2 separate regions of the Homo sapiens genome follow, and region 2 is linked to region 1. The links come from fine-mapping of genetic effects on gene expression. Tissue or cell type: thyroid. Region 1 holds a variant in brackets; the other region holds the start of a gene. All regions are shown on one strand. Distances are between the middles of the regions. Region 1 overlaps TOX (thymocyte selection associated high mobility group box). Region 2 holds the start of TOX (thymocyte selection associated high mobility group box).

Region 1 (5,377 bases):
TGGGGGCAGAATTTTCTGGGGTTAGAGACACACTGGAGATCCCAAAATGCTATACAGGAAGCCTCTTCTTGGAATGTTTAGGACAAGTAAATATTCCTCAGAACAAGCTTTTGAGCTTGTAAAATCTCAATGAAAATACATAAAAAGATAAAATCTGAATCTGAAGAAGAGAAGCGCCAAGAAAGAAGATGGAGGGGCGTCACTCCCCTTGTTCTGCTGTTGCCTTCCTCCCTCTCCTGGCAGGGGCTGGGCATGGGCGCACGTGGATTTTGCTTTTCTCTAGCTCTGCCTTCCTCTTCCATGGTGATCTCCAAGAGGCTGTCATTCCAGACCTTCTGAGTTTCTTGCTACTAGATATATATAGGAAAGTGTTAAATGATGGAACGACCGACATAAAGGAGTGGGCTTTATTCAAGGGGTTGCCATCCTCTTATCATCACCTGGCCACCAACTATGAAACTGGTTAAGGATCTTTACAGCCAGATGGGGGTTTTGCTAGTAGTGACTATGGGGTGGGGGAAAAGAGGGGATTTTTACCAGATAAACATTTTAAAACATTTATTTAAAAATTGTGGTAGAGGAAATTACCGAAGAGGCCATCACAGAGAAAAAAATACTAGGTAATTACTAAACCTTTACTGAACGTTATCTTTTAGAGATACAAGCTGTTTTGTTCCTCCATTTACAGGAGTGAACTGGTTTGTGGCATTGCTTTCCATACAATCTTTTCATCAAATGCCTTTTATCTCAACAATCAGTACCAATTGCTTTGGTTTCTTTGGTTTTCGATGATCCACATTGATTATTTAGAAGCTGAAGCATTGCCATTCATAATACTTTGATCCAGTCATTTAATAACATGATTTTATGCACAAGTATACACACGCACACACTCAAACACAGATTTGGTTTACAATTTTGTAAACATGTTCTGTTTTCATTTTCTGTTTTACATTATTTACAATCTATCATTTTTACCGTACAATCTCTTGGTAATCTCCTGTAATCTTTGCTGACTTATTCATATCTCAGTAACTCTAAAAGATGCAGCTTTATGGAAGATTTTGAGTAGGGAGTGATACAAGGGAAGAACATTCAGCAGGAAAAGATCGATTGTATTTTTCAAATAGGTTTTCCCCCAATAGTAGCGTTGTTCTTCAACTAGCCTTGGTTGGTTATGAGTGGCTTAATGTTCCACTCTAAATATAAGATATAAAGGGCACCAAACAACAAGATACAGTGGCAAGTATAGTCAGTCTCTGTCAGCCCTGGTTTCCTCATTTGTAACATGGGATAATGGTATTATTTAATTTTTGATGTTACTAAGAGAATTGAATGGCATAACAGGCAAAAATGGCTTCAAAAAGGTGACAGGTATAAAACAAACATTGGCTATTAGTACTATTTTTATGTTATTATTACATATAAAATGTTTGTTTGTTTGTTTGTTTGTTTTTTGAGATGAAGTCTCGCTCTGTCACCCAGGCTGGAGTGCAGTGGTGTGATCTTGGCTCACCGCAAGCTCCGCCTCCTGGGTTCAAGCAATTCTCCTGCCTCAGCCTCCTGAGTAGCTGGGACTACAGGCACGTGCCAGCACGCCCGGCTAATGTTTTGTATTTTTAGTAGAGACGGGGTTTCACCGTGTTGGCCAGGCTGGTCTCAATCTCCTGACCTCGTGATCTGCCCGCCTTGGCCTCCCAAAGTGCCAGGATTACGGGCGTGAGCCACTGCGCCCAGCCATAAAATATTAATAGCCAGCACACTATTGGGATTGGGAGCCAGAAGGGTATAAGGAAGAAAGGAAGAGTTGCGATAAGTAAGTCTGTTGAGGTAGATTTGAGTAATCCACATGAAAAGACATAAAGACACGGGGCTATCAAATGTTGTCTTGATGGAATTAAACACTCTGTTATCAATTATTACAAAAATAGTGGGAATGCCAGCTGAGACAAGGTAAAATGATAAGGTAATAGCATCCTAATAAAACGGGAAATCGTTACACAATTTTAGAATTTTGTCAAAGAATAAATGCTTTATTTGTATTTGTCTCTGATTATGAAAAAAAAGAACTATGGTTGATCAAGGTAAAAGATAAAAAGATAAGCATACATTAAGCCTGTGTCTACTTACTATAAAAATCTAGATGATTTTCTTTCTAAAAGATTTTTTTTTTTTTTTACAACATAACATAAAAGGTGGAAACAAGACTTTGGTCACTTCCCAACACTAATGTGAACATTTTCTAGATGTTCACTACTCCTTTCTGGCCACGATAACAAGAGTTCTTTTGAAACAATGCCACAAAGCAGCACTAAATATGTGCTCTCCCACACT[C/G]TGTACATAAGGGAAATCAAGTAGGGAATAATTTTACTAACTGTTTGCCAAGGTCAACTTTTCTGTTTTTCAAAGAGTAATGTGTTTTCCTTGACAAATAATGTAATCCATTCTGCATTGAAATATGGGCCTCCTGATATGGGATTCTTTCTTGAATAATAATATAAATTCATGTTATCTAATTTGACAGTAGACCACTGTATGGACATTTAAGAAACAAAATGAGTGTTGATGTTGTTCAGAGGAGATATATTTATTAATGACTCTTTATTCTTCCTTTTCCATTCTGTATCTTTAGTAACTTGGTGATATTTCTCAGTTAAAAAAAAATTTAAAGAGTAAAATATTTCTTCTTTTTACCTTCCAATTAAATTATTTTCTTCCGGTACTTGGAATGGGGATTCTGTAGGAGCTCATCTGATCTTTAGAAGAACATCCAAGGTAGCCCCACCTTCTCCAGGCTCTTAGAAAGGAATTAAATTTTATTTTAATTTTGGTGATGTGAAGGAAGGGGAATGAGAAAGGATCATGTTTTTTGAAATTCTTTTTATATTCTAGAAGACAATTACTTAGAGCAAATTGGCTCTTACTTCACTAGTTAGGCACCCTCATTATCTACTTAAAATACCTCTATCTTCTCTCATTTACAAACAAATAGAAAAGCTGCCGGTATACCTCAATTCAAATCCTCTCTGGCCAGATTACTCTTACTGCTCTTGAAGAAGACTTTACTGTTTGCCTCCTACATTCTAGAAAGGCCAACCAGCAGTCTCACTTGGCTGAGAAGTTGGCCATCAGGGTGTGCTTGATGTGCAAGATTAAAGACCAGAGTTGGCTGTCTTCCTGGATGCCCTGGGCTGTGTTAACTTTCTTCATTGAGAGAAACTCTGACCTTTTAATAGATATTTTGTTGTTGTTAATTGTAAACAGAGAAAGGCTCCTTGGTCTAGGAGGCTCTTGCTGGATAGTGGCTGGTAGGAAAATAGTTGCAGGTGGGGAAAGGCACCATGGAGCCTCCTGAGCTCCTTCTGGAACCTGGGGAATCAGACCCTCTGACTTGGAGCGCACAACTCATCATAGTCAGCATGCTGGCTGCTAACGTATTTAAGGATGAACAGTCACAGGGCTCGCACTTAGGAGTCCCTATAGCTTGTACATCTTTAGCTGGGGCAGACCCACATGATCCTGAGAATGTGGCTTGCCTTCTTCCGGAACTTAGTGTCTCCAAAGAGAAAAAGACAGAAATGAAATTATCAAAGGTGTCTCCTTCCAGTGGGCAAGCATGTGGATTCAGCTCACCATTTCCACCAGTTACAGCTGCTCCCCTCATGGCCCCACTTGCTCCTTCTGGACCACTTGAAGGAACCAGCTCATGCTATTTTTCATTCCCACCTTTATGTCATCTTAGAAACATAGTCCTGAAATATATACGTAGTTCTTTCCTCCCAAAGCAGTGCTGTCTCCCAAGCTCAGCTCACCCAGAAAGCCACCACTGATCAATCCAGGGAAGTGAGCTGCTCCACCTTCCAAATGCTAGTGCTGCCTTGAGCAGCTCCTGAAAATTCTGCTCCTTTGTAGCAAGCTTACATGGGGAGAACTCATCTGAAATGAGATGATATTCTTAGTTGCTTAATCATTTTTTTCTTTAAGCTTTCAAATAATAAGTAAACCATTGTCTAAACAAAAATCCTTTTGAAATAGGATAGGGATATTGGTTTTATATTTTAAAAATATTATTTTTTCCGTCTAGAGCCTGGATTGACCTGTAGTCCACATTCTAGAGCACCCTTTGGGTCAAGCATAAAAAACCTGGGAGGTGGAGGTTGCAGTGAGCCGAGACTGTGCCACTGCACTCCAGCCTGGGTGACAGAGTGAGACTCTGTATCCAAAAAACTCCAAAAAACAAAAAACAACTTCCAGAAGTTTTGATGATTGAAGTTTCCTGAAGATATTTACAAAAACAGCTGATTATTAAAGGAATACATATTGCTTGTAGAAAATATGGAAAATGAAGCAATAAAAATGTGTAATTCGACCACTCAGCATGCATTTTTTCCCAGCATTCATATATATAATTATAAATATATGGTATTCATATACACACTGTTTTGTTTGTGTACACTGAAAGGCGGGGGGCGGAGAGAATATACTTTTTATTCACCCACAGCAGTTACAAGCATGAAATCTGGAGTGACACAATGTCATTTTAGGCAAGTTCTTTAATATCTCTAATCCTTAGGTGTTTGGGGTGAGGATTAAATCAGATACTAGGAACTAATACTTATTGTTTCCAGTGTCTTGAACATTGTTCTACACATTTTATACACAATAACTCTTTTTAATTCTCACAACAAACCTATGAGGTGTGTATTATGACACTTTGCCTCTGCTTGTATGCAAATAATACTTGTAAAGGGCTCAGTGTAGTGTCAGAGGTGTAATAAATACTATTTGTATGTGATTTTTTTTTCTACAAGATATGGCCAGTTTGTAACAGAAAATTTTATAGCATATTTTTCATTTTATGTTTCAATATTTTCCCTGAATCATATTTTTATTTAAATATAAATTTACTAGTTAATGTCTTCATTAATATGTAGTGCTCAAGGCAGCACTAGCATTTGGAAGGTGGAGCAGCTCATCTCCCTGGATTGTTCAGTGGTGGCTTTCTGGGTGAGCTGAGCTTGGGAGACAGCACTGCTTTGGGAGGAAAGAACTACGTTATTAAAGGGTATCAAAGGGTATTTTTCATACTCTTTTTTTCTGGGGATAAAAATTTAGATTCTTACATTAGTAAAGGCTAGGGCCAGCTTTTTGTATATTATCTGTTCAAGTAAGTGTGCAGTTTTTCTAGACATGTCATGACCTTATCTTTCCAAGCAGCTAGTTAAAACGGAGAGATCTGACTTGCTGCCAAGAAAGGGCCATTGCTTTTGTCTTTTTCTAGTTGCTCTTCATGTGGGCTTATGTGGGACTCTAGGGAAGCATGCACAGTTGGTTTTTTCAATCAGATACTTCCTAAACAGGTGGCATGTGACTTTTC
Region 2 (5,377 bases), 60 kb before region 1:
CACCTATCACACCATGCCATGTACAGTATACCACTTTAACTCCATACACTCCGATGGAAGAAACCAGACTCTTGATTATGTAGAAGAATGCACAGGTCTCATGCATTTGGATTTTCCCTTAAAGCAGAGAAAACTGGTAGGTCTGTAGAGGAAAGCAGGAGATATCATTATCTCCCAGGAGTCAAGATGCAGATAATGGTATTGTTCCAGTCTTGAACCATTTCATTTCATCTTCCTGATGTTCACGAGGCCATCAAACAGACATCAATGATGAATTCCAAGAAAGTTTTATTTTTAAAAATCAAGTTTTGATATAATAAATGTTGGATTGAGGATAGAAATTTAAGCTGAGAAATGTTTAATTTGGACCTAAAAAAGTTTATTATTACTATTATTATTGTGGAAGGAAATACATACAGGCACATTTTAGTATCTACAACAGTATTTGGGAAGCTGTTATGAAACACAAAACTTCATTTAAATTTTATTATAAAGACCTTTATTAGGAGAAAGGACATATTTTCTATTTCTTACTTTTATTTTGTGCCTTGAAGGACTTGTGAATGTATAGAATAATTATTTTTTCTTACTGCTTCCTCTTTGCAACCCAACCTCCACCAAGTCAATCGTGAAGGTAGGAAGAAAGCTGTATTTCTGTTACTTTTAAAAATGATAACGAGAAGAAATTAAAACAATGGCTTAAGAGAAAGAGGATGTAAGGAGTACAAAGCAAAACTTAACAAAGAGTTAGTAAAGGAACTTGCATTGACAATTCACTCAGCCATGTTAATTTTATCATTAATACTGTCTTCATCATTTTTTTTTCCAGGTCTCTCTGCTCGTATTTGCTTGGTGCTCCGAAATGCACGGGAACAGACAGCTATGGGAAAGCTGCACAGAGCAGTTGGCAATCAACATGTCCTAGAAGGGTGTGTGGAGTAGCAAAACAAGTGGAACGGATGAAGAACTTCCAAGCTCCTTCGCAGAGTTTTGGGCCCTAGTGTGCAGGGCTGCTCCCTCATGAGATGGAGGACAATGTCGCCCACACCTACTTGGACCTCTCACCAAGGACACTGCCCTCAGAGATAAATCTGTTGGACGGCAGCCAAGAGACCCCAAATTGTCTCAACCTCCAGGACACGGCAAGTTGCAAGTTTCCGAGTTGGGGAGGCAAAGCGGGAAAACATGTTTGGCGATTTCCTCCTGCCACTCACCGACCGGAGAAATGGGGAGGCGGACTCCAGGTCTTTCGTGGACTGCCAAGAGCCCTATAGGGCGTCCAGCTATAAAAAGAGAAGAATCCCATGAAGGACAACAAGCAAACTCATATGTTATCCCTTTAGCCGGATTGTGTGCTGATGATTGTTTCCCTATTTACACTTCGAATCACCCCTGTGGTCTTTTGTGAGTCCCCAAGGCAGCCTCAGCCTTCGCAAACCGTCCAGTGGGGCACGAATCTCGGAGGGGTGCGGGCTGCAGGCGGCAGAGGGAAGCCAAAGAGGGGCGGCTTTTCCAGGCCGTCCACCCCCAGGCGAGCTGGTCCTCACCCTTCGATCGGCTCGAGTCCCTCGGACAGTTGCCCACTCACAGCGTGCAAAGGGGTCGCACTCCCTGTGGGTTCTCCGCCCTCAGAAGCGGCGCTGCGCAGGAAAGTCACCTCCACTACGGGCCGGGAGTAGGGAGGGGAGCACAGTGACAGGGTTGGGGAACAGCCGAGGAGGAGTGGGGGTCGCGGAGATAGGGGTGGGGACGGCCGCGGAGAGGGCGGTGGGAGTGGGGTGGGGCCGGGGAGGGCCGGGGGCGGGGCTGCGGGGCGGGGTGCGCCACAGCGCCCCCTAGCTGCGCGCTCCCCACGGTGCCCTGAGGCCGCTGGTGGCTCTGGCTCGGCAGCCCCTTTGTGTGCGACGCGCTGGTCCCGAGGAGCGCGGCACGGGCACAGCGGAGGCCTCCCAGGGTCCCACCGCTTCTGTCCCAGCCAGGCCGTGCTCTCCTCCTTCTCCTTCTCCGCTCCTCCTTTCTCCGGTCCCCGGCCTCTGGTTCCGAACAGCAGCCATTGGGCCTTGACGAGCCCGCGTCCGGCCGCGCTCCCTACCCCGCCCGGCCCGGGACGCTCGCCCCCCTCCCGCCCTGTCCCTTCTGGATCCCCGCCCCACCCCCCCACCCCCCACATCCCGGGCCTCCAAGGTGGAGAAAATAAACTACAAGCAGAACAACTCAGAATCTCCAATAAAACGCCCAGTACCTAGAGCCCGAGCGCGTGTGCCGGGCTGCGAGGGGCGCGGGAGGCGGGGATGGGGGGGCGGGCGGGGGGGACAATGAGCGCATGAAGTTACCTGCCCGGCGGCGGCGGCAGCGGCGGCGGCGGGACCAAGAGGCGGCGGTGGAGCAGGCTGCGCGCTCGGCGCCGACGGGTGCGCGCCGCGGCTTGGGGGAGAGTTGAGCGCTTTTCCCCCCTCTTTTTTTTTTTTTTCCTCTTCTTCTTAAACAAACCACAAACGGATGTGAGGGAAGGAAGGTGTTTCTTTTACTCCTGAGCCCAGACACCTCACTCTGTTCCGTCTAAGCTTGTTTTGCTGAACACTTTTTTTTAAAAAAGGAAAAAGAAAAGGAGTTGCTTGATGTGAGAGTGAAATGGACGTAAGATTTTATCCACCTCCAGCCCAGCCCGCCGCTGCGCCCGACGCTCCCTGTCTGGGACCTTCTCCCTGCCTGGACCCCTACTATTGCAACAAGGTGAACGCTCTGCTTTTGTTTCCACCGTGTTCTTGCTGCTTGATCCTGGGAGGGGAGCGGCGGTGGCCGGGCCGCGGCGGGGCCGGCTTGGCGGAGGCCGGTCCCGGGCGCGCTCGGCTCGCAGCCCGCTGCAGCCTGCGTGCGCTTGGGTAGTAAATATTGTGGAGTAGCTCCGGGGGCTTGCCAAACACCGCGATTGTGCGGAAAGTGACACGATTTGCTCGGATTCTTTCCTTCCTGCTGTTCGCGGCTAAGGATCCCTGCCTAGGTTTGCCGGGGGGCGTTTAAAAAAATAATAAGAGAAAACCGTGGAATACTTTGGGGGTGTGTCTGGGGTCCAGGAACGGAGGCAGAGTAAGAGAATTCAGTTTATTTCCCAGTTCCCCCTTCTCTCTCCCTCCCTCCCCGGGCAGTGGGGGCTCGTGGCACCACTTCCCTTCTCCGGATTAGTTGCCAGGGGAGCAGCCGGGAGTCGGGGTGCAGGGACCTGGGAGGCGCCCCTGCCCCCCACAGGGAAAACTGCCCCACAACTCTTTTGTTTTCTCAAACCGGTTCCGGCAGCCGAGCCCGGGTTCGGACACAGGTCCGCGGGCCAGAGCACAGCGGGGTAGCTGGGTCAAGGTTTGGGGAACAGTTCCTGTTTAAGGGGTGCGCGCGGAAATTGCAAGTTTGTTGGGAGCCGGGCGAGCACGTCGCGTTCAAGTCCAAAGCTCCCGCACTCGCGGAGCAGGGTCCGCGGCTGAGCTGTACCCACGGCCCGCTGACCTCGGGTGCCAGGGCCGCGGGGGCCCGGGGAGAGGCGGATCATGCCGGTGACCCGGAGGTGGGGCGCTGGCCTGGGCTGCTGCGGAGTTCGGCTGGGTCCACCTATAGGACAGTCAGGGGGTACGAGGGAGGGGGTTACTCTCCCGGCTTCTCGAACTCTCTCATCCCAGAGAGGGAGGACACGCAGGGACCGGTCCCCCAGAGTGGTCGCAGGGGCACGACTGCCCACGCCTAGGGCTAGTTGGACGTGTCTAAGCAGTCCCGTTGGATGAACGTTGGCAGAGAGAATTGAGTTCTCTAAAACGCTGGGCGGGCCTTTTAGACGCCCAACTCTCGCTTGGTGATAAATCTGCCTGATACTCACAGCCCCTGCAGGCACATCCATGGCGACCCTCGGTGCATTCCACGGGAAAAATCGTTGGGACTCCCAACATTTGCCTGGTGGCGAGTCATCACCAAACGGCTTTTTTACCTGATACAGAGATATTTAGTGCGCTGCCTTCTCAGCCCTGGACTCCGCACCACGCGACCGAGTCGCAGCTCCGAGTCTTGGACAGTGTTGACACACAGGCAGGCTCTCACACACACACTTCCCCGTGGAGAAGCTCCTCGATGCTGTGTCCAGTGTGAGACCCACTCAAAGGACTGTGCTGTGTGCCGATGGTGTTTAGGCAAGTTAGAAAAGAGGGACATCCAGTCTTGAGCAAGGCAGAAGGGCTTCCATTGTACAGGGAGCCCTTCAGCTACGGGCAAGTTGAAAGGTACGGGGAACTTTGGCAAGCGCATAGGAGTTTGTGTGATGAAGTTTCATTATTTGCTGGTGACATAGTTCTTTTAGTCTAAAATCTGTTTTGTCTGTACACTCAAGTATTGTGTTACGTTTTATTTTGCTTATGACACCAATACTATTGCTAATAAAAAATAATAAAGTTGCAGCCCTATCTTGGAGAGTAAAGACTTATTCCACTGTAGTTACCGGAACCAAAAGCTCAGAACTATTTTGGCAATGAGACTGGACAAATCTTATTAAGTTTATCAGTGATTTTAGGCCCCAAAAAGAAGTTAATGACTTGGATACACATTTCACTCCTCGTTCTTGTGATAAGTAGGGTCAGATTTAATTTAAAAGTTAAATGCTTTGGAAAATCAGGAATTACTTCAATATATTAAATCATTTTCCAATTAAGTGCTTTAAATAATTTTAGTGGGTTGTGCTGTGAATTGAATAAATTAATTTAGAAAGTATTCAGAATTTCTTTACTAGCTCATTGAAGTTCCTTTTAAGTCACCCCGTGTATAAGAAGCAAACTGTTCTTTTTAAATGCAAATTAGGCACCCTTTCTGTAGACTAGTTGCGAGTCTTCTATTTAACTTATCCAGAGAATAATAGATTTTTTAAAATCCAAAGTCATAAGACATGTTTCTAATAGTGGAAGAAGACTTCATGGAAATGTTTCTCCAGGGACATCTCTGGCCCATCTCTGTGTAGCAGTCCATCAGATATATTTGTCACTGGTCCCGATTATATTAAATGTACTGGATAGTTTTCTAGGCCCCACAAATCCCAGGCACTTGAGTTTTTTCACTCCACCATGATTAGCATTGGTACAAAATTTCTGTCCAGCTCCACAATTGTAGTTGTGCATAATGCAGTCAACTAGCATTTGTTTTTGCAATGACATGAGTGGATTTGCAGGGAAATGGAAGAAGGACAGAAGTTTGGAAAAGGTGAAGTAAGAAATCTGTGCCTACATTTATTAAAACAAGTTGGATCAGACATCCCCAAAAGAACAATACTGCAAAGTAAATCTTGCTTCCTTCGGAGGCGTAATGAATATGTAGCTTACTACAAATAGCAGTCAGTTTGTCAGGTGATTTG

What was found. PIP is the estimated chance that this variant, and not a neighbour inherited with it, causes the effect.
Region 2: TOX starts here. The variant in region 1 is fine-mapped to the expression of TOX in thyroid (GTEx, PIP above 0.99).

The regions. Positions count from the first base shown.
Region 1 is chr8:59,056,708-59,062,084 of GRCh38, reverse strand. The region is part of intron 1 of TOX (thymocyte selection associated high mobility group box); the gene reads left to right. Among named protein-coding and RNA genes, the nearest start is that of TOX, 60 kb to the left of the region's middle. RefSeq lists an enhancer at 2,763-3,299. The variant C/G (reference allele first, on the strand shown) is at 2,335.
Region 2 is chr8:59,116,242-59,121,618 of GRCh38, reverse strand. It overlaps TOX (thymocyte selection associated high mobility group box), which reads left to right and starts at 2,472. Exons shown (of 9, transcript NM_014729.3): 1 at 2,472-2,733. The coding sequence starts at 2,632. TOX-DT (TOX divergent transcript) reads right to left here and starts at 2,409. Exons shown (of 3, transcript NR_149031.1): 1 at 2,334-2,409; 2 at 1,548-1,662; 3 at 1-1,283. RefSeq lists a silencer at 1,728-1,947.